4 linked regions of the Homo sapiens genome follow. The protein of the gene in region 2 purifies or fractionates together with the protein of the main gene of each other region. This does not show direct contact. Each region holds a gene or a part of one and is shown on either strand. Other genes may lie near its edges.

Region 1 (7,952 bases), on a different chromosome or scaffold from region 2:
ATGATAATCTTCCACTCTGTTCTTCAAAAACATCTTGGCCAATCTTAGCCCTTTTTATTTCTATGTCAGTGTTACAATGAGCTTGTCAAGTTCCACAAAAAGCCGGTTTAGATATGGTTGGCACTGTACTAAATGTAGATCAAATCCAGAACTGGTATCTTGGCCGGGTGCGGGGGCTCATGCTGTAATCCCAGCACTTTGGGAGTCTGAGGCAGGTTTATCGCTTGAGTCCAGGAGTCTGAGACCAGCCTGGGGAACAAGGTGAAACTCCACCATTACTAAAAAAAAAATACAAAATTAGCTGGGCATGGTGGTGTGCACCTGAGCCTGGGAATTTCAGGCTACAGTGAGCCAAGACTGCGTCACTACACTCTAGCCTGGGCAATGGGAGTGAGATTCTGTTTCAAAAAATACAAAAAAGAACTGATATTATTTTTGTACTATGAATATGGTCTAACTCTCCATTTATGTAGGTCTTTATTTTGCTCAATAGCATCTTTTAATATTTTGCAGGAAAGTCATATACCTTTTAAGTCTTAAAGAATTATTCCTAGATTACTTTGATGTTACAGAGCATCAAAATATTTTTTTCACTTTTTGTTGCAGGTATATTTGTTTCTCATTAATTCATATTCTTCCAAGAGTTTAAGGCAATTTGATTTAAGGAGAAATCATTTCTTAAGAGGATCTTTAAAGTCATATTTGTGAGAGAAGAGAGACAAAGGAAAAATAAGGGTAGTCAAGGTTAAGTTGAAAGGAGTGAAAAAACTAGAATATGCAGGTGATAAAATCCTAAGAACTTGCTAGATACAGATCAAAAAGTTGGCTCTACATTTTCTAGCCACCCACTGTTTTTCTGCTTTAACCAACAAAGTGTTTAACTTTAGAACACAGTAAAAATTAGTCTTCTATGATGTAATGGTTTATGTACAGACAGAAACTACGTTAAAAACAAAAAAACTATAAAATGTACATAGATTCAATGGCTAAAATTACATCATGAGTTTATGGTGTCAGTTTTTCTCAGCCCATTATTCAGAACTCACCTTTCCACTGAATCGTCCGGTTGCCTGACAAAGAATTGATACAATTCAAATGGAGATGTCTTATCTCTGTTTAGCCAAACAGCGTTGCCAGCAGACTTTCCCAGCTTTGCTCCAGTTGTACTTGTAATTAGAGGAACGGTGATTCCAAATACATCTTCTCCAGTCAACCTACGCATAAAGAACAATTTCATTATGTGCCTCAAGCACAAGTGGTGGTAGGTTCTACTGTTCACCTTCCAGATTTCTTTCTGGTTACTTGCTCCAGGAAAACTTCCTTGACCTCCTAAATCTGAATTCTTGTTCCTCTTATGTATTGTTACAGTACTTACTCTATTCATTCTGAACCTCATGAGTGGTTCCAGGCAGGTTCTAGGCAGGCCAAGGGGAAGTGCTACATAACAATGGACTAGAGATTTTGAAAGGCTGAGTGGGAAGGAGAAAACTGGGTGAAGGGGTGTCAGGAAGAGACACTAAAGGAAATCTTCTAAACGCCTTTTAAACATGTGCTTTGCTCTGTTGCACATGAGCTAGCCCTATCCTTCACCTCTCTCAAGAAAATGCTATTAGACCCGCATTACTTGTCAATTATTTGGAGTTGAAAAAACTTTTTGAGATACCAACCAAGGACTAACACTAGTTTCATGGAGGGTGCAGAGCTAAAGCAGAGGCTAGCTACTCAAGGAGGCCCAGTCACGTTCTGGTATAAACACACAAAAGCAGTTTCTCTAATTAGAGAGGACGACTTAGGCGAAGCAAAACAGACCGACCAAATCTTCACTAGTGGTCTGTTTCCCTTTTTTTTTTTTTTTTTTTTGAGACGGAGTCTCCCTCTGTTGCCCCAGGCTGGAGTGCAGTGGCGCGATCTCGGCTCACTGAAACCTTCGCCTCCCGGGTTCAAGAGATTCTCCTGCCTCAGCCTCCCGAATAGCTGGGATTACAGGCGTGCATCACCACGCCCAGCTAATTTTTAGAATACACCGTTTACTCTTAATACCCTTAATTCAGCCCTTTAATTCTTATTAGCCAGTGTTATTAACGCCATTATAGAGCCTTAATGGGGATAAAACCAACAAGAGCTGGAACGAAGGGCAGCAACTACAATCCTAAGAGTGAATCACAGGCTACTAGTGTGTAAATTATTTGGTCCCAGGATTTCCCCAAGGTTTAAAGGCACTTACTTGTTGATGAACTCATATCCGGACATGATGTTGCCTAGTTGATCAGATCCGCCCAGCTGGACCCTGCATCCATAACGCTGGAAGAGGTAATAGAAGTCATAGGCCTGGAGCACCTGGTAAAAGAACTCGGCCAAGCTCATGCCCTCGGGGCTCTTGAGCCGCAGCTGCACGCTCTGCCGGCTCAGCAGCGTCCCCATGCGGAAGTGACCCCCCACTGCCGCCAGGAAGTCCACCAGGTGCTGCTTCTGGTACCAGGCCGAGTTGTCCAGCACAGTGAAGCTGCCCCAGGAGCGCCCATCAGTGAAAAGCTGCTGGTGATTAGCCGCCAGGGCCTCAAGCCCTAGGCGCAGAGCTCGCGCGTTGGCTCGCACGCGCTCTGTCTCCAGCGCCTCGCGTTCCTTGGTACGGCCGCTCGGGTCTCCCAGGCGCGCCGTGGCGCCTCCCACCAGCGCGATCACGTTGTGGCCCGCTCGCTGCAAATGAAACAGGCCCAGCAGCGCAAGTAGATGACCCACATGAAGCGAGTCTGCCGTGGGGTCGAAGCCACAGTAAATGGTTTGGGGAAAACTCGCCGTGCCACGGTCGAAGAGCTCTGGGAGCTCTATTTTCGTCCCCGTCTCCGGGAAGAAGTCCTTGAACAGACCTCGAGCCTTCTGCGCTGCCAGTAACCCCTGAGCGCCCGAGTGGGCCTTACGCAGCCCCAAGGGCAACAATACTGAGAGATTTAGGGTACCAGACCACCGGCCCCAGGAAAAGGACCGCAAGATGGGCGCCGCCATCTTGGTAGCGGCACGAAGGGAATGCTGGGATTGCAGAGGCTCCCACCACACCCACCTACTTACAGCTCCTAGGGAAGGTGCTTCAGTGTTTTTCTGCGCATGCCCGAGACGGTTACGTAGTTACGGAGCTTGCGCTCTCAGCAGTTGAGTCCCGACTCCAAGTGGCGATTCCGCCTCAGAGCCGTCGCCTTACGTTCCCTTAAACTTAATTTTTCCATCAGCAGTGTGGATCTGCTTATGATAGTTCCTACCTCATAAGGCTGTTGTGAGCCTTAAAAATTAAAGCATTTGGCACATAACGCTTCACAAATGCTAACTTGTATTTACATTTTCACGTAAAAAGATTGTGATGCGCAAGTTCTTTGAAGTCTTGGTTCCATGCAAAAAGCTGTTCACAGAGGTTGAGAAAGGTTAGGAATTGGTTTAAGTTCGCGGAGAGATAGGGAGTTGCTGCTGAGACGCAAGCAATTTCATAGTACCGATTCCCTAATTGCACCTCGTCCCCAGTATTCATCGGCTCTTCCAGGAGGTGGCAGTCTTGTCCAAGGTATAGCAAGAAAAACTCAGTGCAATAAAGTACATGCATCAAGTCCTGTGGTTTATTTATTTTAAATACAGTTAACTAGGTTGGGACACAGCTTAGCATGAGTGGATTCAAGTTAGTAATCACATCGTGCAGCGTGACAGGTGCTCTGAATACTGACCAGGGATGAGGTTCTTATTGGCAGCTGGCTGGCAGGTGATCTAGCTTCAAAATCCCATGTTAGAGCCTGATTTCTAGGACCGCTTTCAAAATCGTCTTAGGTAGAATTCCCTGGACTCTGAGTTGGGGGGGAGACTGGTTTGCAGGAGGGTAATTGGAGTGTGCTCTTAAGAACAACACCTATAATGGAGTGAGGGAGGCCGGGTTGGGCGGAGGGAGAAAGAAGTTGAACTGTGAACAATTTGTAATAGAGGCCTCAGGCAATCCAGTAAGGGCTCTGGAGCCGGGATTTCCTTTCAGAGTCATCCTGAATTGAGGCCAGGGGGCAGACCTTTAGACCCTCTTACTGACTGCTCATTAAATGTGGGATGTTTCTGGGGAGGAAGCAAAACGCTGGGTTAAGGCTTTTGGAGAGTGAGATGTGCAGGAAGGGACTCAGCTGTGAGCAATAAGCAACCAACACTCCCAGCAGCTGGGGGATTGAGTGCCTTGGTCCTGTGACTGGGATCTGGGCCATGTTCCAAATCATTCCCTACAGGACTTTTCCATTTTTTAACGTTATAAAGTTATCTAACAAAATGAAAACTTATTTTAATAATTAGTTTCTTTGCATGTATAATTATCAGTGAATTAGTTTCTCATTGCCAAATAGTAACTTCAATAGGATTTTGAGATACTCATTCAATAGGCTATTAAACATACTCCCAACTGCTTAAGAAAATAGTGTGTTCAAAATATCTTAAAATTTGCAATCATAACCTGTTGATCTTCAGTGTTTTTTTTTTTTTTAAGTGTCACTCTGTTGTCCACACTGGAGTGCCGTGGCAGGATCATGGTTCACTGCAGCCTTGAACTCCTAGGCTCCAGCGATCTTCCTGCCTCAGCCTCCCAAGTAGCTGGAGCTACAGGTGTGGACTACCATGCCTGGCTAATTTTTATTTTTTGTTTTTGTAGAGACGGGGGTCTCACTGTATTGCCCAGGGTGGTCCTAAACTCCTGGCCTCAAGCAAGCTTCCCACCTCTGCCTCCCAAAGTGTTGGGATTACAGGCATGAGCTACTTCGCAAGGCCAATCTGCAGTCATATGGTCCACCACTTTGATCAGGGACAGATTTCAGTAGGTATGGCAGGAAATTCTCCTGAGCACACGTAAGGAAACTCACATCTGGGCCACTTGTCACTTGAAAGCCAAAAACCCAAGAGAAGAGCTGTAGTGAAAGTAAAGTTAGCTTTATTCAAGAGACCAGCAACCCTGGGGGATGCAGTGAGCTAGCGTTCAAAGACCACCTCTGGTTTTTAAGGGCAATTAAGAGAAAGGATGATAAAAAGATTTTTGTGAAACGTGTGCAGTCTCAGGTCGGCAGTAAATCATTGCTTTCTTGGTCAATATTTTGTGGCTTTCTGCAGGTACCATCAGCCTATTCTTATTAGGTCGGTCAGCCCATTCACAGAGAGGCTGATCTAGGTATTTTCTTTTATCTCTGTTCAAGATCCTGTTTTTCTGAGGCTGATTTTAGTGAATGATCTACAAAATCAAGCAAAGTAATAATTGTATTCAAGTAAGCAAGCTTTCTTCTAACATGGAATCAGTACTGTCACACACACAGCAAATGGTGCTTTCTATTTAGTACCTTAATACATAGGGCACACATGTGTTTCTGGTGACACACAACTCTCTGGCTTTTACAGGTGTGTTAGTAATTTGAAAATCCTACTTGTTACAACAGTATGCCAGGGTTACTTGATGTCAGGGTTACTTGATGACCTGTGCTTAATGGAGAAGAATTTTGTGGATAATGAGAAATAGAAAATTTCTACCTGGGATTACAATTTATTATAAAGTCTTTTAAAAATAGATTTGAGCTCTGCTTTGTCTCTTAAGTTTAGTTGCATCTCATGAAGAGGCAGCAAAGTCTGATATAGAAGGTGGTGTCGGGCCGGGTGCGGTGGCTCACGCCTGTAATCCCAGCACTTTGGGAGGCTGAGGTGAGCGGATCACTTGAGGTTGGGAGTTTGAGACCAGCCTGACCAACATGGAGAAACCCCATCTCTAATAAAAATACAAAATTAGCCGGGCATGGTGGCGCATGCCTGTAATCCCAGCTACTTGGGAGGCTGAGGCAGGAGCATTGCTTGCACCCACGAGGTGGAGGTTGCAGTGAGCCGAGATCATGCCATTGCACTCCAGCCTGGGCAACGAAAGCCAAACTCCGTCTCAAAAAAAAAAAAAAAAAAAGAAGGTGGTGTCACAGGAGGTGCTAGATGAGACTTGACAGTAGCTTAATGACAGTAACAAGCAACAAGTTTGGAAAATACAGTGAGATCAATTACTCTCTTTTTATAATTTGTGTTGGTATTATAGGGGAAATTGGGCTTTGTCCCAAAGACAGGAGCAATAAAGAAGATGGGACTTTCAAACCTTTGGAATTATATCCGTGGCTAAAATTTTATGGGATTGCACCCATGGTTTGCATTTGGGTTACAAAAAAGTGACCAAGTTAATTCTTGCTGTTTTTATTGGCTTAAAAAGTGAGTGAACAAGGGTTAAAAAGTATTTTTAAAAATATGATTTATCTCAACTGTAATAACTTGAGGTTAACTGGCCTTGAATTAGAGGCACATGTGTTTTACAGTTACCTTTTCCTGCAACAAAATGCCACATAAATGTTCTCTTTGAAGGGATCCCTGTTTTAAATGGCTTGGTTTTCAAAATGTAAACAAATATAAATATAATAGAATTCAAAAGACACAGAGTAAACAGTAATGGTATTTTAACTGATCTCTACTTAACTTTGAAAATTTCTCTATCTCTAGCATTGTATTAAATATATATTCAGATTACAGCAGAGATCTGATTAGGGCTGAAATATGAGCTGCTCGAACATCACAGCAAAATGACAGCAGAAAGAAGTCTGAGGAATTCTGATCATTATAATCACTATAAAATATAATTCTTATTTGTGTTTTCTGTTTTTTTTTCCTTGGAGAAGATTATTGGTGACATCAGATGCAAAAGGGAGTGGATAGGAACAAGAAATAGAAATTGTAAACCTATAATTGTAAACCTACGTAACCATGCCCGGTTACGGCCGGGCATGGTGGCTCACGCTTGTAATCCCAGCACTTTGGGAGGCTGAGGCGGGCAGATCACCTGAGGTCAGGAGTTTGAGACCAGCCTGACAAACATGGTGAAACTCCCGTCTCAACCAAAAATACAAAAATTAGCCAGACGTGGTGGCGGGCGTCTGTAATCCCAGCTACTCAGGAGGCTGAGGCAGGAGAATCACTTAAACCTGGGAGGCGGAGGTTGCAGTGAGCCGACATAGCACCACTGCACTCCAGCCTGGGCAACAGAGTGAGACAACATCTCAAAAAAAAAAAAAAGAAAGAAAAGAAAAAGAAATTGTAGGTTATTGCAGAAAGGCCATGGCTTTTCTTCCAGTTGAAGTATTTCCATGGCTTTTCTTCCAGTTGAAGTATTTCCATGACATTCCTATCTCCTATTACTTGGGAAGAATCATTTCTAAAGATTGATTTCATGTCTTTGTTGTCTTTGTATAATAATTTATAACTCAATCTGCCTCATAATTACATCTTCTCACACATGACTTTCATGTTGCTGTTTTTCTTGAAACCTACATCTAAAGTCCTAAAGATCCTCCCACTCTGCCCATCCTTACCTGCAAGGCAGTTGCTCCCCTTTCATTCCAAACTAATTTCTTTCAGGAAGCTCCTCTGCATTAGGTAGGGCGAAGGAAGGATGCTTTTACTGTCCAGGTTCATCATGCCCCTAAAATGTATTAAAATGTAAAATCAATAATGCTTACCCTTCCCACACAAAAAAATGGAAAGACCATTAAGTTCTATTAAAATTTATAGAAATTTATGTGAGCTAAGTGTCTTGAAACCTAGTCTGTGTCCCTTGATTGAAGTGGCTTTAATGCTTTTTGAGCTGATGGTCATATTAACATCCAAAAATTTTTTATAAGAGATTAGCTTATTTTAAGATGCTGATTGTAGGAGGATAATTAGACAAAGAAACATGTTACTAGATATGCATTTCCTTTCTATATTAGAGTTTAGAGAAGGATACCCCAAGTTTCTTTCTTTCTTTCTTTTAGGCTGCTGTTGTAGCCAGTGGAATAACCTGGAGGTCTCAGCATTGCCTTAACTTTATGCACCTGGTCCCATACCATATGGCTGGATAATGTTTTGAGATATTTATGGGTTTAAAAATCTTTCATTTT
Region 2 (5,421 bases):
AAATTGTTAGAAAGCAGATACCATCAAATTGGTTCTGGGAAGGTAAAGCCATTTAAGCACTTTAAATGAAAATTTAAATAATTGAAATAATTTCTTGATGTGGAGAAAAATAAAATGATTTAATTTTAGAACTTCGGTAAAAATTATACTTTCATGTTTTTTGTTTATAGTGTGAAATCAAAGTTGCACAACCCAAAGAGGTATATAGGCAGCAACAGCAACAACAAAAAGGTGGAAGAGGTGCTGCAGCTGGTGGACGAGGTGGTACGAGGGGTCGTGGCCGAGGTGAGACTTAATTCTTGAAATATGACTCCGTGGTTTATTTAAGCTGTATACTGCTGAATATGAGTAGTCCTGTACCAAAGCAAAACTTTAAACTTAAAACCATTCCAGCGGAGGGGGGACTGTTCAGCTTAGTGGAGGTTGTGTGTGGTGGTTTTTTGTTGTGAGCTCACTGGTTTCAAAAAACTGTTAAAAGTGTGGCCACTTTGACAATTAGTGTCATCACTGATAGGAAAAGTGTACCATTACATGATACACCGTGGTGTGATAGGTTTTCTTGGGCAGGAGTCCTTGTTTTAAACAGAACAGTGTACCTGTCTTCGGCTTTAATGGAAAATTGAATGATTTTCCATTAAGTTTAGGAAGTTTGATACTGGCACAATTGGACTTTCTGCCTCCTTTTTTATAACAGCTGGAAAAATAGTTTTTCAAGCAGATAGCAATATATATGTCCATTCTGCCCTTTAAGATTTGCAGAGTGAGAGACAAGAACGCATCATTTTATGTTAGAATTGGGGGTCAGAAGTTGTTTCCTAACAATCATTGTGCATTGTTTCAGGTCAGGGCCAAAACTGGAACCAAGGATTTAATAACTATTATGATCAAGGATATGGAAATTACAATAGTGCCTATGGTGGTGATCAAAACTATAGTGGCTATGGCGGATATGATTATACTGGGTATAACTATGGGAACTATGGATATGGACAGGGATATGCAGACTACAGTGGTAAGAATATTTAACTTAATTTTATAAAGCAGTGGTATTAAAATTCATTGTTAACATACAATCCTGTTCTGAAATTGTGTGTATGGGCTTTCCATTAAAGTGTTCGGAGTTAAGTGTTTGAGGCATGTTACAATCATAGGATGATTATACTAACATAGACTGGTGGTTATAAATGAACTAGGATGTATGATTTATGAGTAGCATCTAATGGGTGCTAAAATATCTTAATACTTTTTATTTAGCATGCAAAGATTTGTAGATTTAATAGTTTGTGTTTGTAAAGAAAGTTTTGTAGAAAACTATCTTAATGAGAATTCTGTGTTTTCAAAATAGGCCAACAGAGCACTTATGGCAAGGCATCTCGAGGGGGTGGCAATCACCAAAACAATTACCAGCCATACTAAAGGAGAACATTGGAGAAAACAGGTGTGTATAAGAGTACAGGAAAACAGTAGAAATGTCTAATTTAATTTAAAGATCAATAGACAAATGAAACGTAAAAACAAAATACTATGTAGCCTGTTTTTACTAAATTGTTGATTTTTTAATTGCTTTATGAGCCTGTTTTGCCTAAAGTGTCTATAGATCTTTAACTTTAAAGTCTTATCTCACTTTCTTTAGTATTGCAGAAAAACTTAAGAGTTTTTCTGTTTGCTTTTGTGTACCAGGTGGTCTAGAGGAATAATTAAACATTTTAGAACTATTAACAGGTAAAGTACTGAAATGGGTACAACTTAAGGAAAACAAGAATGTTGTCTTCTAACTCTGACATTATACCTTGTTTGTACCCGCCAGCGGGAACTTCATTGCAGGCCGTGTGTCACCCTGACCACGTCTATCTCTGGGGGTCGCACGTTGCGGGCAGAGCGCAAGGCATACACCAGAAAACGCTGTCCTGTGGTATGGTCTCTTCCAACTTCATGTACCAGCGTAAAGATTAAAGTGGAAAACTTCAGACTTTGGCTTCATTTTTAATCTTTTTGGAGATTAAGTGTCTAAACTTAACTTAAATGGTTTTTTACAGGAGTTAAAGTACATAAATGCCTTTTTACAGCTTAATCATTTTGGTCTTCTGTTTAGTGTTGTATTTCAATTGTGGAGCCTCATTTTAAGTGTTCATTCTTTTAAGATTTAATGCTTGCTTTTTCTTTTTATAGCTAATAGTGAAATCTACAAACCAAAACAAGAACTTTTAAATCTGGGATATAAATTAAAGATCATATGCACAGATCAATTTATGTTCTTGTAATAAACTTATTAGAAATTGGTGTTTGTGATAGCATTTTACTTGGGTTACTAGAGATGCTTCTAGTAGACCTTAATCTAGCATAGTTGAACCTCTGAATATGGGAAGGTTGTATTCCCAGATTCTTTCCTGAATAGATTTGAATTTAATGTCATTTGGGAACTCCAGGGTGAGTTTATTGACTACCCAAACTGTATTTTACCAATAAATATGCATATGATCTTTAATTATTGAAGAAAATAAAGTGAGGACTTAAAACAATTCATGAAAGTGGACCTTTAAAAGCTTGTCAGAGTTGCACAAATCTAACTGGTATTTTGTTTTTGTTTTTAGGAGGAGATGTTAAAGTAACCCATCTTGCAGGACGACATTGAAGATTGGTCTTCTGTTGATCTAAGATGATTATTTTGTAAAAGACTTTCTAGTGTACAAGACACCATTGTGTCCAACTGTATATAGCTGCCAATTAGTTTTCTTTGTTTTTACTTTGTCCTTTGCTATCTGTGTTATGACTCAATGTGGATTTGTTTATACACATTTTATTTGTATCATTTCATGTTAAACCTCAAATAAATGCTTCCTTATGTGATTGCTTTTCTGCGTCAGGTACTACATAGCTCTGTAAAAAATGTAATTTAAAATAAGCAATAATTAAGGCACAGTTGATTTTGTAGAGTATTGGTCCATACAGAGAAACTGTGGTCCTTTATAAATAGCCAGCCAGCGTCACCCTCTTCTCCAATTTGTAGGTGTATTTTATGCTCTTAAGGCTTCATCTTCTCCCTGTAACTGAGATTTCTACCACACCTTTGAACAATGTTCTTTCCCTTCTGGTTATCTGAAGACTGTCCTGAAAGGAAGACATAAGTGTTGTGATTAGTAGAAGCTTTCTAGTAGACCATATTTCTTCTGGATTGTAATAAAATTGTTAGTAGCTCCTTTTACTTTGTTCCTGTCTCTGGAAAGCCATTTTTGAATTGCTGATTACTTTGGCTTTAATCAGTGGTCACCTAGAAAAAGCTTTGTAATCATAACACAATGAGTAATTCTTGATAAAAGTTCAGATACAAAAGGAGCACTGTAAAACTGGTAGGAGCTATGGTTTAAGAGCATTGGAAGTAGTTACAACTCAAGGATTTTGGTAGAAAGGTATGAGTTTGGTCGAAAAATTAAAATAGTGGCAAAATAAGATTTAGTTGTGTTTTCTCAGAGCCGCCACAAGATTGAACAAAATGTTTTCTGTTTGGGCATCCTGAGGAAGTTGTATTAGCTGTTAATGCTCTGTGAGTTTAGAAAAAGTCTTGATAGTAAATCTAGTTTTTGACACAGTGCATGAACTAAGTAGTTAAATATTTACATATTCAGAAAGGAATAGTGGAAAAGGTATCTTGGTTATGACAAAGTCATTACAAATGTGACTAAGTCATTACAAATGTGACTGAGTCATTACAGTGGACCCTCTGGGTGCATTGAAAAGAATCCGTTTTATATCCAGGTTTCAGAGGACCTGGAATAATAAAAAGCTTTGGATTTTGCATTCAGTGTAGTTGGATTTTGGGACCTTGGCCTCAGTGTTATTTACTGGGATTGGCATACGTGTTCACAGGCAGAGTAGTTGATCTCACACAACGGGTGATCTCACAAAACTGGTAAGTTTCTTATGCTCATGAGCCCTCCCTTTTTTTTTTTAATTTGGTGCCTGCAACTTTCTTAACAATGATTCTACTTCCTGGGCTATCACATTATAATGCTCTTGGCCTCTTTTTTGCTGCTGTTTTGCTATTCTTAAACTTAGGCCAAGTACCAATGTTGGCTGTTAGAAGGGATTCTGTTCATTCAACATGCAACTTTAGGGAATGGAAGTAAGTTCATTTTTAAGTTGTGTTGTCAGTAGGTGCGGTGTCTAGGGTAGTGAATCCTGTAAGTTCAAATTTATGATTAGGTGACGAGTTGACATTGAGATTGTCCTTTTCCCTGATCAAAAAATGAATAAAGCCTTTTTAAACAAAATCCAAACTTTTAATCAAGTCTTGATATGTATGACTGAGAAAAAATACACTACATCTAGAGATGATTGAGATGTTTTGCAAAGAATTGAAGGGGGAGTGAGAATTGGTTTTTCTTGCAGGGGCTTTGAACTCTAGATTTGGGCTTTGAACTCTAGATTTAATTCAGATTTCAGGGTCTATCAGTTCACCAACTGATGCAAATTTGAACAGATACTCTAAGGCTAAGTGTCCTAGGTTGGATGAACTGAAGCTACTATCAAGATCTCGTTCCCAAGGATTAATTTAGAACAAAGTAATTGGACAAGTTTATTGGGGAGGGGATAGAAATGAATTCTAAAGTACCTATAACAAATACTCTGTGTATGTTTTTTACATCGTATTTGCCTTTTACATTGTTTAGACCAAATTCTGTGTGATGTTATCCTCGGGAAGAGGATAGAAATTAATTCTAAAGTACCTATAACAAATGCTCGGTTTGTATATGTTTTTATACATCGTATTTGCCTTTTGCATTGTTCAGACCAAATTCTGTGTGATGTTATCCTAACAAAACACCTTAGTAATTTCTTTGGTTAACATGTTAATCTGTAATCTCACTTTTATAAGATGAGGACTATTAAAATGAGATGTCTGTTGGGATGCTAGCGTGGATAAGCAGAGCTTATTCCATTACTCTTCAGTGGATCTTTATTTTCATAATGGCAGAGATCCTCACTAATCTTCACAAAACTTAATACAAGGGCATATCTGAACAATTAAGCTACTTTCCAGTACCAAGATTTGATTTAATGTCAATCAGGATGCTAGGCTGCGTGCTGTAGATCATGCCTGTAATCCCAAGCACTTTGGGAGGCCAAGGCAAGTACATTACTTGAGTCCAGCCTGGGCAACATGGCAAAACCCCGTCTCTACAAAAACTACGAAAATTAGCTCGATGTGATGGTGCACACCTGTAGTCCCAGCTACTTGGGCTGAGGCGGGACGATTGCTTGAACCAGGGAGGTGAAGTGTGCAGTGAGTCATGTTTGCGCCAGTGCACTCCACCCTGGGCGACAAAGTGAGACCCTGTCTCAAAAAATCACAGGATGCTAAACTTCACCAATTAAAAAGTTGACTAAGCTGGCCGCACGCAGTGGCTCATCCCTGTAATCCTA
Region 3 (7,644 bases), on a different chromosome or scaffold from region 2:
AACAGACTAAGACTAAGAAAGGTATCATGGCCCCGTGGAATGGTACCAGAGTCAGCTAGAGGCTTCCAAGTACTTTCTTCCTCATTCTGATTCATATTCAGTGCAACTGGAAAACAATCCCCCTTTCTTTCCTCAACTAGACCTGTAAGGGCAAGGACTACATCTTTTTTGTTCTTACCTTCCCAATACCCCGTACAGTGCTTGGGAACACTGGACATGCTCAAATCTTTGAATGAAACTCCAGGCCAGCACTGTCCAATAGAACGTTTTACAATGATGAAAATGCTTTATGGCTGTCCCATATGGTAGCCATTAGCCACACGTGGCTATTGAGCATTTGAAATATAGCTAATATAACTGCAGAACTGAATTTATATCTTTTTTTTTTTTTTTGAGACAGAGTCTGGCTCTGTCACCAGGCTGGAGTGCAGTGGCACAATCTCAGCTCACTGCAACCTCCGCCTCCCAGGTTCAAGCCATTCTCCTGCCTCAGCCTCCCGAGTAGCTGGAATTACAGGCACACGCCACCATGCCCAGCTAATTTTTGTATTTTTAGTAAAGACGGCATTTCACCATGTTGGCCAGGATGGTCTTGATCTTTTGACCTTGTGATCCACCCACCTTGGCCTTCCAAAGTGCTGGGATTACAGGCTTGAGCCACCACGCCCGGCTGAATTTATATTTTAATTTATAATTAAATAGGCACATGTAGCTAGTGGCTACCGTAATGGATAGTGCCTCTAGAAATCCCTCTGGTTATACTGTCTTCTAGCTTGCCTCAGGTTATAAAATATTATTTTCCGGCCGGGTGAGGTGGCTCATGCCAGTAATCCTAGCACTTTAGGAGGCTGAGGCAGGCGGATCCCCTGAGGTCAGGAGTTTGAGACCAGCCTGACCAACATGGAGAAACCCGTCTCTACTAAAAATACAAAATTATCTGGGCCTGGTGGCGCATGCCTGTAATCCCAGCTACTCAGGAGGATGAGGCAGGAGAATCACTTAAACCCGGGAGGCGGAGGTTGCGGTGAGCAGAGATCGCGCCATTGCACTCCAGCCTGGGCAACAAGAGCAAAACTCCATCTCAATTAGAAAAAAAAAAAAAATCTTCCTTGCGGTCACAAGAGAAAAGATTTTGATATATCCTAACTCAATAGGGCTGGATATTTGCTCCCATATGTTTCACTATCAAAGAACATAAAATGAATTCATGCAAATTCTGAAAATTTGGGCTTCTTCTGTAACTTTGTATGATGGGTTTACCCTCTAAGTGTTGCTCCTTGGCCTGATGCACTGTCACTATTCCACTCAGTTAATGGTCCAAAAGAGAAAAGAAAGCATCCTACCATTTTCACAACGTAGAAGGCCATGGCATGTAAGTGTCGGGTAGAAGTTCCACTAACAATCACAAAGTAATCTGTATATCTCATTTCTGGAGGAACCTGGATCACACAAATGTCTCTTGCATTTTCTTGCCTCAGAAGTGAAACCATCATATCGATGTCAAACTTGGGACCAGTATGATCTGAAATGCACAAATAGTTGTTTGTATCAGGATGGCCAAGCAGATAGACGTGTATGCACCCAGAGATGCCGGCAGCTGACTGTTCCTCCATGAGGGTGTTTAGATCCAAAGTGTTTTTACAGATAGCAGGGTAAAGGCCTCCTGGAAGGTGAACCTGGGCAGTAGTATCATAGCACCGCTCAACTTTTATGGTCAGGGTGCTCAGATTACGCAGAGCCACTATACATCCTTCGCTATTAACCATATGCAAGTAGAACCAGACACCAGTGACAAATGACTTTCTACTAATACTTAAAAGGAGCAATACACCACAATCACAGAAATGCTGTGCAAAGAAAAACAGCACCACAAAATGGGTAGGAGGTGATATCCTGGAGCATATTAAATTGAATCTCAGTCATAACGGGTCACAGAATTGTGAGCTGGAAGGGCTCTTAGGCAGTATCTGGTCCACAACCTTCAGTTGAGAGATGAAGAAACTGAGGCCTAGGAGAATTACTGTGGCCTAAGATCAGTCACTGAAAGAGCTACATTTTTGAGTAATTATTATTTTGAACCTTCCAGTTTTCATATAAAACCACCGGGTTATTAACAACTGTTACCTATGAAAATCTAATTTTTTTTCCCGTAAAGATTTAGATATTCTGATCTTCAGCTTGGAGTATTACAGGCTGTAAATTTAAAAGCTCGCCCAAGTTCTAAAGCCGACTCCAAAGGACCTAGTAGCTAAGCCCACTAAGGCCTCTCCCTCTCATACTCTACATTCTTAGATGTGATCTGTTTACCATTCTTAAGTTTCTAAAAACGTCAGCAATAACTAGAGGATATTAACTTGGACCCATCTCCTACTGGCGCTTCCTACGCACCCCTTCGCACCCAGACCCTGGCTCCTCAGAATCCTCAAGCCCCAACAGTCCCCACAAACCCATTTCCCAGGATCCTAGGAAGAGGGTAAAAGGAAGTGAGGACGGTGAGACTGTGATGCCAAGGGTGGGAGATGGCCGTCCGGGAGGCTGGGATTCTGCAGTTCATCTCTTGCCCTCAATTTCTTCACTGTGAAACGGGAAGGTTGGCGCCAACAACCTTTGAAGTCCCTTCCAGCTCTGGATGTGCAGGAGTTTTGTGACTCCAAGAGAAATGCACATAGAGGGGAACCCAGAGCCACCTTGGCTGGGACCTGACTCCAGACTGCCCGGAGAGGGTCGCCTTCGTTCTTCTCCACGCCCGTACCTGCCGCGTCCGATTCTGGGCGTCCCTCGTTGACCGTCCCCTCCGCCCGCTCCTCCAGCCCAGGCTCGCTGTGCAGGCCGCGGACAAAGTTTGGGGTCTGGCAAGCCCGGCAGAACGCTGCTCCTACGGGAAGCCGCTGCACGGCCAGCAGCCGAAGCCCGGGCTCGGCTCCAACCGCGGACCCCGCCACCGAGGAAACCGCCCTGCGCCACATTAGTGGGGCGAGCAGCCGCGCCACACGGCCGCCCGGCCCCATAGCAGCAGCCTTGCGTCGGCGTCGCGGGTGGGTGGTACTTCATGGAGCCCGGCCGGGAAATTCTACGTCGATGCGTGGGCGGAGTCAAGGCCTGAAGGACGGACCATGGGCGGAGTCTGGAGCCCGTGAAGACTGCAGTGACCCGGAAGAGCTACTTGGGGATTAGGGCGTGCGGGAATAAAGAACTAGTGTTGCTTGCCCACCTTGCTTTGCTTTGTGTCGCAGTAGCGCATTACGTTGTCACTTTTTTTTTGGACTCTGTCCACTAATGTGAGGCTCATGAAGGCAATAATTTTTGTTTCATTTTTAACTCTTCTCTCCACAGCACCTAAAACAGTTCCTGGTACTGAATGTCCAGAAGTTGCTGTTAATCTGATTAGGCTGGGATTAGGACATATAATCTACCCTCTCTCATTACCAGAAAATATTCAAGATTCCCTTGCAAATTTGAAATTGCGCGAGGAAAATCTGTTATCCTGGGCTAGAGTGGGGTGGGAGGCAGAGGTGTAAAGGACCATTTGGAAACCGTTCTTAGGTCAGCCCATCATCTACACTCCCTGTATGGAGGAGTTTACGCCCAGGGGCGGTACTGTGGGGACCAGCTCTGTAAGAATAAGGAATTCTGAGGTGCCAGCTGCGGTATTAAGTCACAGGACTTGAGAACTGCGATAGATTCCTGGCACGGGTGGGGGGGTGGGGGGTTTTGGGGGCGTGGGACGCCGCAGGGAAGCAACTTGCCCAGGTCATACACTTACTGACTGCGTCAGAATCAGAAGCCAGTTTCTGGCTTCTGAACTCCAGGCCTGCTAACTGCTGAAAGGAAGGCTTCATAGAGAGCAAATATTTCAAATGCCTGAAACAGTGCCAGACACATAGCAGGCACTCCAAAAATGTTTGCTACATTATTTTAAATAATTCCAAGCACTAATTTTGGGAAGTTTTTTAAAAATAGAGAAATTAAGCATTTGTGTATATCACACCAGATATGTACAACCACTTCAAGTTATTTTTGAAAAGAAGAAAAACATTACAGATTAAGTTTCCTCTGTCCAATTTTAGCCCCATCCTCAATTCCATTTTTCCACAGGCATGAACTTGGCTTTTCTCCCAGCTTCTGGCATCCATTCCGTGTTCCCACCCTTCTCTGAACATCCCAGACCTGCTTTACCACCTGTATTTGCCAGCTCATTTAATGGGTCATTATCCCTTCAAAACTCCCAAACCCTAGACTTCATTCAGTCCAGGATCTTCATACAACAAACGAATCTGTTGTCAAAATCCTGCTTATGTGACCTCCAAAATGTTTCTGTGAGTTCAGCTTCTTGTCTTCATTTCCACTGTTTCTTCCTTAGTCCACACCCTCATTAGTTCTTGCCTAATTACAGAGACTGCCTCCTACCTGGCTTTCCTGTCTCCAGTCTGTTTCTACTCTTTTCATCCTCCATGCTGCCCTTCTATCAACTACAATCATTTTCGCTTTATCTGCTTTTTGCTGTTTTTCAAACTCACCATACCCTTTTTTATTTTTATTTTTTAAAGAGATGGGGTCTTACTCTTGTCACCCAGACTGGAGTACAGTCACACAATCATAGCTAACTACATCCTCAAACTCCTGGGCTCAAGCGGTGCTCCTGCCTTAGCCTCCCAATTAGCTAGGACTACAGGCATGTGGAACCATGGCCAGCTAATTTTTGTTTTTAATTTTTTTAAAGACAGGATCTCACTATGTTGCCCAGGCTGGTTTCAAACTCCTGGCCTTAAGCAATCTACCCCACTGTAGCTGTGAGTATAGGCATAAGCCACCATGCCTGGCAACCTCACCATATCCTTTCAATGCCAAGCTTTGCATATACTTTTTTTTTGAGATGGAGTCTCGCTCTGTCACCCAGACTGGAGTGCAGTGGCACCATCTCGGTTCACCACAACCTTTGCCTCCAGGGTTCAAGCAATTCTCCTGCCTCGGCCTCCCAAATAGCTGGGATTACAGGCACGTGCCACCACCCCCAGCTAATTTTTGTATTTTTAGTAGAGACGGGGTTTCACCATGTTGGCCAGGCTGGTCTCAAACTCCTGACCTCAAGTGATCCACCCGCCTCAGCCTCCCAAAGTGTTGGGATTACGGGTGTGAGCCACCGTGCTTGGCCACTACTCTTTTTAGAGCACCCTTTTCCCATTTTTTCATATGACAAACTCAGACTCACTCTGTAAGACATACCTTAAGCATTAAGATATCTCCCCCTACTCTCTCAGATGGCCCCTCAGAAACCCCTCATCCCTTTGTTCATAAATGTCTTTAACATTTATGTTTGACTGCATGATACCCCACTAGAAAAGACTTAGATTTAATTCCACCTCTTCTGTTTATTAGCAGTGTACTATTGAAGTTCTTAATCTGAGCCTCAGTTTCCTCATCTGTAAAATGAGGGAATGATACCTTCTTCACAGAGTCTCGAAAAATTGGATAAAATATGCAGCACAAATTATATACCATAGTGCTTGGCATGTAGTAATCATATGGAAATTAGTATCTGTCTACAAATTGACCTCATGGAGAGGAAATGGCTTGAACCCAGTCATTATGATAAAGCCCATCAGAAAAAGACAACCAGGAACACGTGTGGTCAAAGTTTTTTTTTTTCCTGAGACGGAGTCTCGCTCTGTCACGCAGGCTGGAGTGCAGTGGTGCAATCTCAGCTCACTGCAACCTCCGCCTCCCGGGTTCAAGCAATTCTTCTGTCTCAGCCTCCTGAGTAGCTAAGATTATAGGCGTGCACCACCACGCCTGGCTAATTTTTTTGTATGTTTAATAGAGACGGGGTTTCGCCACGTTGGCCAGGCTAGGCTCGAACTCCTGACCTTGTGATCCTCCCATCTTGGCCTCCCAAAGTGCTGGGATTACAGGTGTGAGCCACCGCACCTGGCCCAAAGTTAGTTTTATTAACTCGCTGTAGCAAGGGAGACTGCATGCTATGGAGGACAGAGGAGCAGCTCAGGAAGAGGGACTAGAAGGGGCTTTGTTTAGGGCTCGTGCTTATGCTCAGTGAGTCTAAGGAGAGATCAGAGGAAGTGGTGTCAGCTGTGGACTGGGTGCTGTCCTGAAGCAAGGGAAGTTTAGGAATTTTTCTCAGTAATCTTTGTTCAGGAGACAGGAGAATGTTCACAGGGGCTGGAGATGTTATTGGTCAGTCACTCACAAGAGTCGTGTGGTCTGGGGAGAATCATGTCCTATTAAAAACATTATTTTAGGCTTCACTAGGAACATCACATTCTGATTAGCAGCAGGGCTGAGAAACAGACTCAGGGTCCTTGTTCCTTAGAACTATAAAAGTTAAGATAAATGTGGAGTGCTGGCCCTTGGGGAGGATTGATGCTGAAGCTGTGTCTTTGTGTGGAATGATGTGAAATGACCCCCATGCGGAGTCTTCAGGCAAGACCGGGATGTTCCATTCTCACTGAAATGATTCCAAACAACAGTTTCTCATCATCTGTGATTTCAGAGACAAGGTTTGCCAGCACTATGCATGTCCTTAATGTTAATTACCAAAATCCATTTTTACAGGTCATATTTCCTGAGGAAAATTAGAGAGGTTCTCAGAAATGCAAAATGCCCCTCTTTCCCCCAAAACTGCCATCTACTCATGGGCTTGGACATTGTTTTCAGACATTGGTTGCTTAGTAAAGGCAGAATCAGAAGTGGGGGTGGTTTGATAATCACTACCTTTGGGGTACTGAGCCAGAGGATTGAAGCCAAAAGCAACTTCCTGAGTCAGGAATTATAAATTAACTACAGTCCATTAGTACAAGGACTTCCCTATTACAGACCCTAATTACATCCCTGGTGTGGTAATTTGGGAGCCTCCTGTTTGCTGTGTTAGCAGCAGAGCCAAAAGGTTCCCAAATTTGTGTCCTGGGGCTTCATGGGAAGGTGAGAAGCTGCAGTCACAAACACTTTCTCTGCAGCTAGCCTCAGGGGCTGGGGAGAAGGTAGGGGCCTACTTTGGGAGATGACACCACACAGACCTCAGGATCTTGCTTCAGAGAAATACAGAGCAGGCTGGGCCAAAGGCCCAAGGGCTAAACTAGGGAGAGATTGCGCAAGCTTCCTGATGTGCCCATACTGGACCATAGGGACCTTAACATCACACATTACGGGACTGGCACATAGTGTATAAATGACTACGTTTATATAATTTTGATACTGGGAAGCTTATCACTCTGACCTCTGCTTACTCAATGCATGAATTTATTATGCATCTGTGTTTCTTAAGCTGTGGACCATGAACCCCCTTTTGACAGCAGAGGACCCTCAAATCCACATGTGCATCAAACATTGTCTTTGGGCCAAATAAATGTGTCCCTCACAGCAAATAGGTGTAGATGGTATTGCAATTCAATAAAAATTTAAAAGTGTGGCTTTGTTTCAAGTAGCTCTTTGTCATGCATGTACTGAATGATTTTTTTTTTTTTTTGAGACAGGATCTCTTTGTCACCCAGGCTGGAGGGCAGTGACATGATCATAGCTCACTTAACTTTGAACTCCTGGGCTCAAGCAATTCTCTTGCCTCAGCCTCCTGAGCAGCTGGGACTACAGGCATATGCCACCATGCCTGGCTAATTTTTAACTTTTTGTAGAGAC
Region 4 (7,027 bases), on a different chromosome or scaffold from region 2:
GGAATTTTAAAGTTTTAATGTTTTATATTTGCTAGTTTTTCAAGGTAGACTTGTTACTGAATTCTTATTCAGAGAATGAATAAAATATCTTCTAATATGATTTCTTTGATTTCAAACCATTAAGTAAATTAATTATGTCATTTAAGTTCAACAGCAAATTATTTAAAATACCAGATGCTACTTCAAAAATTTAGAGGAAACAACTATTTAAGCTTTATTTTCAAAGTCTAATTTTAATTCAGACTGAACAAACAAGCAGAAAAGTGAGAAAGCTAACTGTATTAGCAGACACAGATGTACCAAATGTAAAACAGTGGGTTATTAACAGAACTATTTACATGCATATTTACAAGCAATCCTTTTGTACACAGTTTTTAGTTAGCTGGAAAAAGATTTGACATTAGGTAAAAATATTATTTATTAGGGCTGAGGTGGTACCACATTATAGTAAAAGTATTAGAAAAGTGACCCTCAAGGTGTATCAATTATAAAGCAGATGAAAACTTGAATGACAAATATCTAGTAAAATTCTCTAGTAAAAAAGTCGATGCAACCCATGCTACAAAATAAAAGTGAGAAAGCCATATAAATAAAGCAGAATAATGTTCTAGCCTTTAAGGTAATGAAGTTAGTCAGTTGAAAAAATAAAAATAAAAAAGAACAATTCTAGAATTGGAATAAATCTTCAGTGAAGTCTTGGTTGTTTAGCTGGGAGTTCACCAAGTTGGGTTTTTCCCCCCCATGACATTTAAAAAGCCCTTGGTATCAAATAGCATCTGCATATGTAAATCAGTTGTTGATATATTCCAAGACTTTAGTGCTAAAGATTTTCAAGATTATGATTCATATTTGAAATTCAATTCATTGGGACACTAAATGTCAAACTAAAATGAAAGCTATAATACTCCTACCTAAAAAAGGATGCTACATTTTTGCAGTAATATGTATTTCCAGAAGAAGACTTTTTCCCCTCAAGAAAAGTAGAATTTAAAGGATAAGCATCTAACCAACTAGCAAAATTTTCAACATTTCATTTATTTCAAAATCGATTTTATTGCAGCCAAAACAGTAGAATTAACTGTACATAATAAACTATTATATATATATACACATTTTAAGTTATAGGGAATAAAGTTTATTTTGGCAGATAGTGTTAAACAAAATTAAAGTTGCATACATTAGTAACATAACTCAACATCCTTAATTTGGTATAGATGTGACATTTTCTTGCTCTCTTGTGTTCTGCTAAATCACCATACCTAAACTGCTTTATAAAACTGATATGCTGAAATTTAACTTTACTGTTTTCGCTTACGCTCTGATTCCAAACAAAACTTTTCATAAGCTTCTTCTATCTCTGGGTCCATCTCATCATCAATATCATCCAAGTATCTGTAAAAGCAAAGATGATTCATAAGTGTAAGGTTTTTCAACTCAGAAAGTAAGATGCTAAATCATGAAAAAAATAATGTAATACAACTTTCCTAGACTGACTTATAATAGAACACAAGCCTAACTTTAGAATTACATTAATGGCAGTCTTCGGACAACCAAATGCTTAATTTGGTAAGTAAAATTTTACAGATTCTGAGTCCCTTGTGTGTGAAATTATAGTAAAGAATATATATACTTTTAGACATAAGTTAAATTCTATAACCTGAAAGTTAATCAAAGGCTTGACATATAAACTTGGGGCTCAAGATCGATATTAATAAATTTACCTTACCAACAAACAATTAGAATATAACTATTAATAGAACATAATTTCAAATATGCCATTCACCTCTAGTGATGCACTAATATTTTGTGTCTACTTAATAACAGAAAGTGCTATTCCTGCTATGATTTCTGCTGGGTTATTCCCATGATGACAATTTAGTCACATTCCCATTTATTTGGAATCAGATTTTCACAGGAAGCTACTTTTGAGATCATCTATTCCAGATTTTTTTCCAACTATTAGGTAGTTTAAAATGGTGGAAAGCAAGGCTTCCCATAGTTAAGTATGGCGGGAAAGATTTAAAGTGTCAATTAAGGATTTAATCTACACATTCTTACTGAATGTCCATAGCCATCTTAAAAAGATATGCATTACGATCATCTTCATTTTGGAGATGGAAAATAAAGAGATTCTGGAAGGTTAAATGAACAATGTAAAATTTTAAGTGTGTGGCGGGGCCAGAATTTGACTCCAGGTCTTACCCCTTTTCCTCCATAACATGATTCTATCAACATCTTCCCCACCCCTCCAATAATCCAATCCCTTCCACCTACAAGCATGAAAAAACAATCTTGCCAACCCTACCAACTGCTGATGAGTCCTTTTCTGTTTCTTCCCCATTTCCAATACAGGGCCATGTGTTGAAATAACCATGAGCTCATTAGGGCAAGAGAATATGATGCTTACCAAATAAACTTAAGAGGATAACCTGAAGTTCAATGCCAAGAACAACTTTATCTTCCAGCGGTATACCCAAGTAGATGGAACTTTCCTAGTTCTGCCTGGGTCCTTAAATCCCTGTATTTTTTTTGTTTTCTATTAAACTAGAATATAGAAGTACAGCAACAATTGTATTTCTAGATCTCAAACCGACACATAATTAAAATATCACTAGAATAAAAGTGGTTCACTTTTTTAAAAAAATCTACAACACAGGAGATATTAAAAAAAAAATAAGTTCAAGATATAATTTATTCCCTCCCATCTCCTACTTAGGAAGAAAAGAAACTAAGTAGCCTGTCCAAATATACACAAGTTGTTAACAGAATTGGTACTAAACCTCACAATTTCCTGGTCCTTCTATAAGAAAATGTAGTGCACTCTGATGGTAAGTGAGTAATATGTTTAAAGGGATCTTTAATTACAAAGAGTGGCAGGTGAAGAAACAGATATATAAACAGTCCTATAATTAACATCTTCTTATCAGTTCAAACATTTTTACATAGTAATCTGTTTTCTTTACTCTTAACTTACCCTTTAATAGCTAAGATTTGAGCCTTCTACTGTGTGCCGGAAGGCTAAGTATTTATGTATTCTCATGTAGTTCTCAAGAAAAAAAAAAAAAAGACTCAACAGGTACTACTATTCTTATTTTATAGATGGAGAAGCAGAACAGAAGTTGCCCAAGATCTTACAGTAAGTTTTAGAGCTTCTTAAAGTCTAAATACAATAGAATCTATTTTAAAAAAATAATTATGCTTAAGTATACTATATTTTAATGGTTATTTTCCTCAACTATACATTTTTCAGAACTAGTCTGTGAGTTAATACAATTTTCTGAAAATTTTTAGTACATAAACACTACCACATAGCACCATCAAATCAAAATGCCTTTTTTTTTTTTGAGACAGAATCTAGTTATGTCTCCCAAGCTGGAGTGCAGTGGCACGATCTCGGCTCACTGCAACCTCTGCCTTCCAAGTTCAAGCAATTCTTGTGCCTCAGCCTCCCGAGTAGCTGTGATTCTGTGATCCTGGCTAATTTTTGTACTTTTAGTAGAGACAGGGTTTCGCCATGTTGGCCAGGCTGGTCTTGAACTCTTGGCCTCAAGTGATCTGCCCTCCTCAGCCTCCCAAAGTGTTGGGATTACAGGCACGAGCCACTGCGCCTGGCCCCAAACACCATTCCTTCATGAGCTACTTTGTCTAATCTCCACCTATAAATTAGACACAGAAATTTCACGAAGTTAGTAACTGAAGAAAACTTACGGATCACCAGCCCCGGATAAATCTGTTCCATTTTCTTCATAATCTGGAAAAAAGTCCTCTCTTTCAAGTAATTCTTGGTATTTCTCTTGGTAATCTGTAAGACAACATAGGAGAAAAACTAAATACTGAAAAAATATCACATGAAATGACCAATCACCCCTAAATGTTTTTTAATATTATGACTTTTGCCCCCCTGCATGCTCAGAAATCTTAAAGTAATTACATATAGTACTATAGATATAAGTTGGAAATCAAAGCCACTGTAGGTGATGTACATTCATAGCCAATGTGTTTATATCCTCTACTGCTGCTTTCCATCAGACAAAATAATGGTTATATAACTGTTGGGGAAGAACAGTCCTTCCATTGGAAAGATATTAATCAAATACTACTGGTTTCCAGCTCCCTCTGTACTCCTCCACAAGGAAGTAAAGAAAGCAGGTAACAACAATTGGTCTCTGTTCCTCAGATGAAGTTAACCTACCAAAAGTTTTAACAATGGGGGATTTTCCTTCCCTTTCTTCCCAGAGAGATGGGGAAGGCAGCTACCTGGTAAACGTTTCAGCTCTGCCAACTTTCCTTTCATTGGGTCCTCCAAGGTAATACAGGTGATATTACACCTATCTGCCAATTGTCTTAGGAAGAGTTATTGGGTACCTTTTAAGTTAAGTATTTCTTTATGAAGTCCTAACCTCTGAATAAAAAAATGAATCAGTATATATTAAGACTAGTTACCTTATAGTTTCTTATGAACAGAAGCCAACGGAAATTTTGCAATTATATTAGACTGGGTAAAAGCCATGTTCTTCCAAGACTGTGTCAGTCTGTATAAAACCGTAACTCCAGCTTCAAGGGCTGGGGACATTTTGATACCCAATTTTGACAATTTAGAGACCGTTTTAACAGTAAAACCTTCCTGCTACAAAAAGACAGGCATTCTTTTAAATGTATGGATAAGTTCACAAAAAAGAAAATCCAAGTCATCAGGTCACAAATGAAGAAGGAACTGAAAGCCATATATAAACTGCAGCTGCTGCAGCTGGGAGGCTGACAGATGATGTTGGTCTCGGTAACTAAGGGGCTTGGATTTTAAAACCCACAGAAAGCCAGAAAGCAAGGTCTTGGGCCCCATGTGAAACAGGAAAATGAAATCCATGCTCCATGCCCAACCTCACCTGCACAAACCTGGGACCCTCAAAGGTCTGGTATCTTAAACAAAAGGTGAATCAGGAAAAAAGACCAAGAAATATCTCAGTGGTATTTTATCTTCCCTGCGAGATAGCAGGAAGCTTGGTCATGTCTGCCTGGGTTTGGAATAGGGACAGAGCACTTTGTAGAAATTGGTGCCCCAGAGAATTTTTAACAATGGGCCTGCACCTCAAATTCCTACTACCCACATAAAGAACCCCTATGACAAGAAAACAAAAAATTTGTCCAAGTCAGTGATACCTACTCTGTGGCTCCTGGCAGAAGGAAATATAAACCATTTTGGACAGAGGTTCCTATAATCCAAGCCACAGTGTTTTTCATTAAAAAAAAAATGAAAAAAGAAAAAAGAAAAAAGACAAAGCACTGAAGCATTTAATCAGGGTCATATTAATATGAAACTTCAAATGGTTTAAGAAAAAAAAAAAAAGTGTGTGGACAAGGTCAGGAAGTCAAGACCAGCCTGACCAACATGGTGAAACCCTGTCTCAATAAAAAAAAAAAAAAAATACAAAATTAGCCAGGCGTGGTGGCACAGGCCTGTAATCCCAGCTACTTGGGAGGCTGAGGCAGGAGAATTGCTTGAACTCAGGAGGTGGAGGTTGCAGTAAGCCGAGGTTGCATCACCGCACCCCAGCCTGGGTAACAGAGTGAGACTCTGTCTCAAAAAAAAAAAAAAAAAAAAAGAGAAAAAAAGAAAAGTGTGTGGAAAGAGCACAAATGATAAAGCAAGTAACTGTTAACAAAAAGTACACCTGGGTAAAAGGTATTCCTTGTACAATTTTACTTTTGTAACTTTTCTGTAAGTTTGAAATCATTTCCAAATAAAAGTTTAAGACGGTTAAGGCAAAAATTTTATGTGTGATGATCAGAAATAACAGAAGGGTTATAATTAAGAGATAAAACAAAAATATAAGACAGAAGTAAGCATGTTTAGAATGATGAGAAAAAATAACTTGAAACTCTGAGAAAAGGTCAAGATTATTTGAACAAAATGCAGAAACAAAATTTAGCTTGATTTTTCTGTAAAACTGTAAGATTTCTTTTACTTTCATGAAGTATAGCAGATTAAAAAACGTTTAAGAAAAAGAAACTGAGATCTACTGGCTGTCTACATTACTTCTTTTCCTTGAAAAGAAACTGAACAACCAAACTGAATTTCTGTAAATCGAACAGTACTAGAAACAATTAAACAGGTTAGAAAAAATAAAAAACAAATAATCAAAATAAATCAAGGTAATTTTTAAGAATAAGAGGAAAGATTTGTCTTACCAGACATAGCAAGATTCACAGTAAGGTAAAAATAATTTAAGTGTAGTATTGGCATAGAAAGAGATTAACAGAAAAAAAGATTCACACAAACACAGGAATAAGACACAATTTGATAGAAGAGTTACATAGTATACAACAAAGGGGGCTTATTATAACTAGGAAAGGAAGGATGGCTTAATACCAATTGTTGAGACAACAGGCAATGGAAAAGATAATTCCTATGATATCATCCTATATAAAAATTGCACTGGTAGATTAAAGACCTAAAAATAAAAAAGAACAATGATTTTTAGAAGAAAACAGAAATGGTAAGGAAACTTTCTTAAACCACAGAAATTACAAACAAGACTGATAAATTTTGTTCACATTAAAACTCAAAGGTTCTACATGACATTATAAACAAAATGCAAAGACAGGCAAATACTGAGAGAAAGAAGGTAACCAAAACCCTCAGCTAAGAATCACTTTGTTCTAGACTACAAAAGGAATTACAGATCAGTAAGACAGACAAATGATCCAACAGAAATATGAACAAAGAGTATTAGCAGGCAATTCTCAAAGAAAGAAATCAAAAAGGTCAACAAGAACAAGAAAACTTCAATATCACTTGTCAGGGAAATAAAATATCAGCAAGATAGAATTTCATACAATCTGATGGACAAAAATTAAGTTTAATAAAAAGTATTGCCAAAGATGAGGAGCAGGAACCCTCATGTGCTGCTGATGGGAAGATTAAGTGGCATAATCATGCTAGAAAACAATTTAGTAACATTTAGTGAAGTTTAAGATGCCCATAGCGTGTAACTTAATTCTACTTCCTTGCCCTAAAAAAACTTCTCTG

Evidence for each region.
Region 1: the proteins of HNRNPDL (region 2) and YARS2 purify together in Homo sapiens (affinity purification with mass spectrometry; 3 studies listed by BioGRID and IntAct, with this or other methods). This does not show direct contact.
Region 3: the proteins of HNRNPDL (region 2) and MALSU1 purify together in Homo sapiens (affinity purification with mass spectrometry; 3 studies listed by BioGRID and IntAct, with this or other methods). This does not show direct contact.
Region 4: the proteins of HNRNPDL (region 2) and PAIP1 purify together in Homo sapiens (affinity purification with mass spectrometry; 3 studies listed by BioGRID and IntAct, with this or other methods). This does not show direct contact.

What each region holds. Positions count from the first base shown.
Region 1 is NC_000012.12:32,752,872-32,760,823, forward strand, and holds the start of YARS2 (tyrosine--tRNA ligase, mitochondrial precursor), read right to left. Parts: upstream 3,027-7,952; 5' UTR 3,004-3,026; coding exon 2,225-3,003; intron 1,215-2,224; coding exon 1,047-1,214; intron 1-1,046. UniProt on the Homo sapiens protein: Catalyzes the attachment of tyrosine to tRNA(Tyr) in a two-step reaction: tyrosine is first activated by ATP to form Tyr-AMP and then transferred to the acceptor end of tRNA(Tyr).
Region 2 is NC_000004.12:82,422,054-82,427,474, reverse strand, and holds the end of HNRNPDL (heterogeneous nuclear ribonucleoprotein D-like), read left to right. Parts: coding exon 1-42; intron 43-170; coding exon 171-285; intron 286-841; coding exon 842-1,012; intron 1,013-1,345; coding exon 1,346-1,416; 3' UTR 1,417-1,438; intron 1,439-1,807; exon of another isoform or gene 1,808-1,912; intron 1,913-2,591; 3' UTR 2,592-4,906; downstream 4,907-5,421. UniProt on the Homo sapiens protein: Acts as a transcriptional regulator. Promotes transcription repression. Promotes transcription activation in differentiated myotubes. Binds to double- and single-stranded DNA sequences. Binds to the transcription suppressor CATR sequence of the COX5B promoter.
Region 3 is NC_000007.14:23,294,717-23,302,360, reverse strand, and holds the start of MALSU1 (mitochondrial assembly of ribosomal large subunit protein 1), read right to left. Parts: upstream 3,023-7,644; 5' UTR 3,009-3,022; coding exon 2,753-3,008; intron 1,523-2,752; coding exon 1,344-1,522; intron 1-1,343. UniProt on the Homo sapiens protein: Required for normal mitochondrial ribosome function and mitochondrial translation. May play a role in ribosome biogenesis by preventing premature association of the 28S and 39S ribosomal subunits.
Region 4 is NC_000005.10:43,526,078-43,533,104, forward strand, and holds the end of PAIP1 (polyadenylate-binding protein-interacting protein 1), read right to left. Parts: intron 3,803-7,027; coding exon 3,709-3,802; intron 1,393-3,708; coding exon 1,299-1,392; 3' UTR 190-1,298; downstream 1-189. UniProt on the Homo sapiens protein: Acts as a coactivator in the regulation of translation initiation of poly(A)-containing mRNAs. Its stimulatory activity on translation is mediated via its action on PABPC1. Competes with PAIP2 for binding to PABPC1.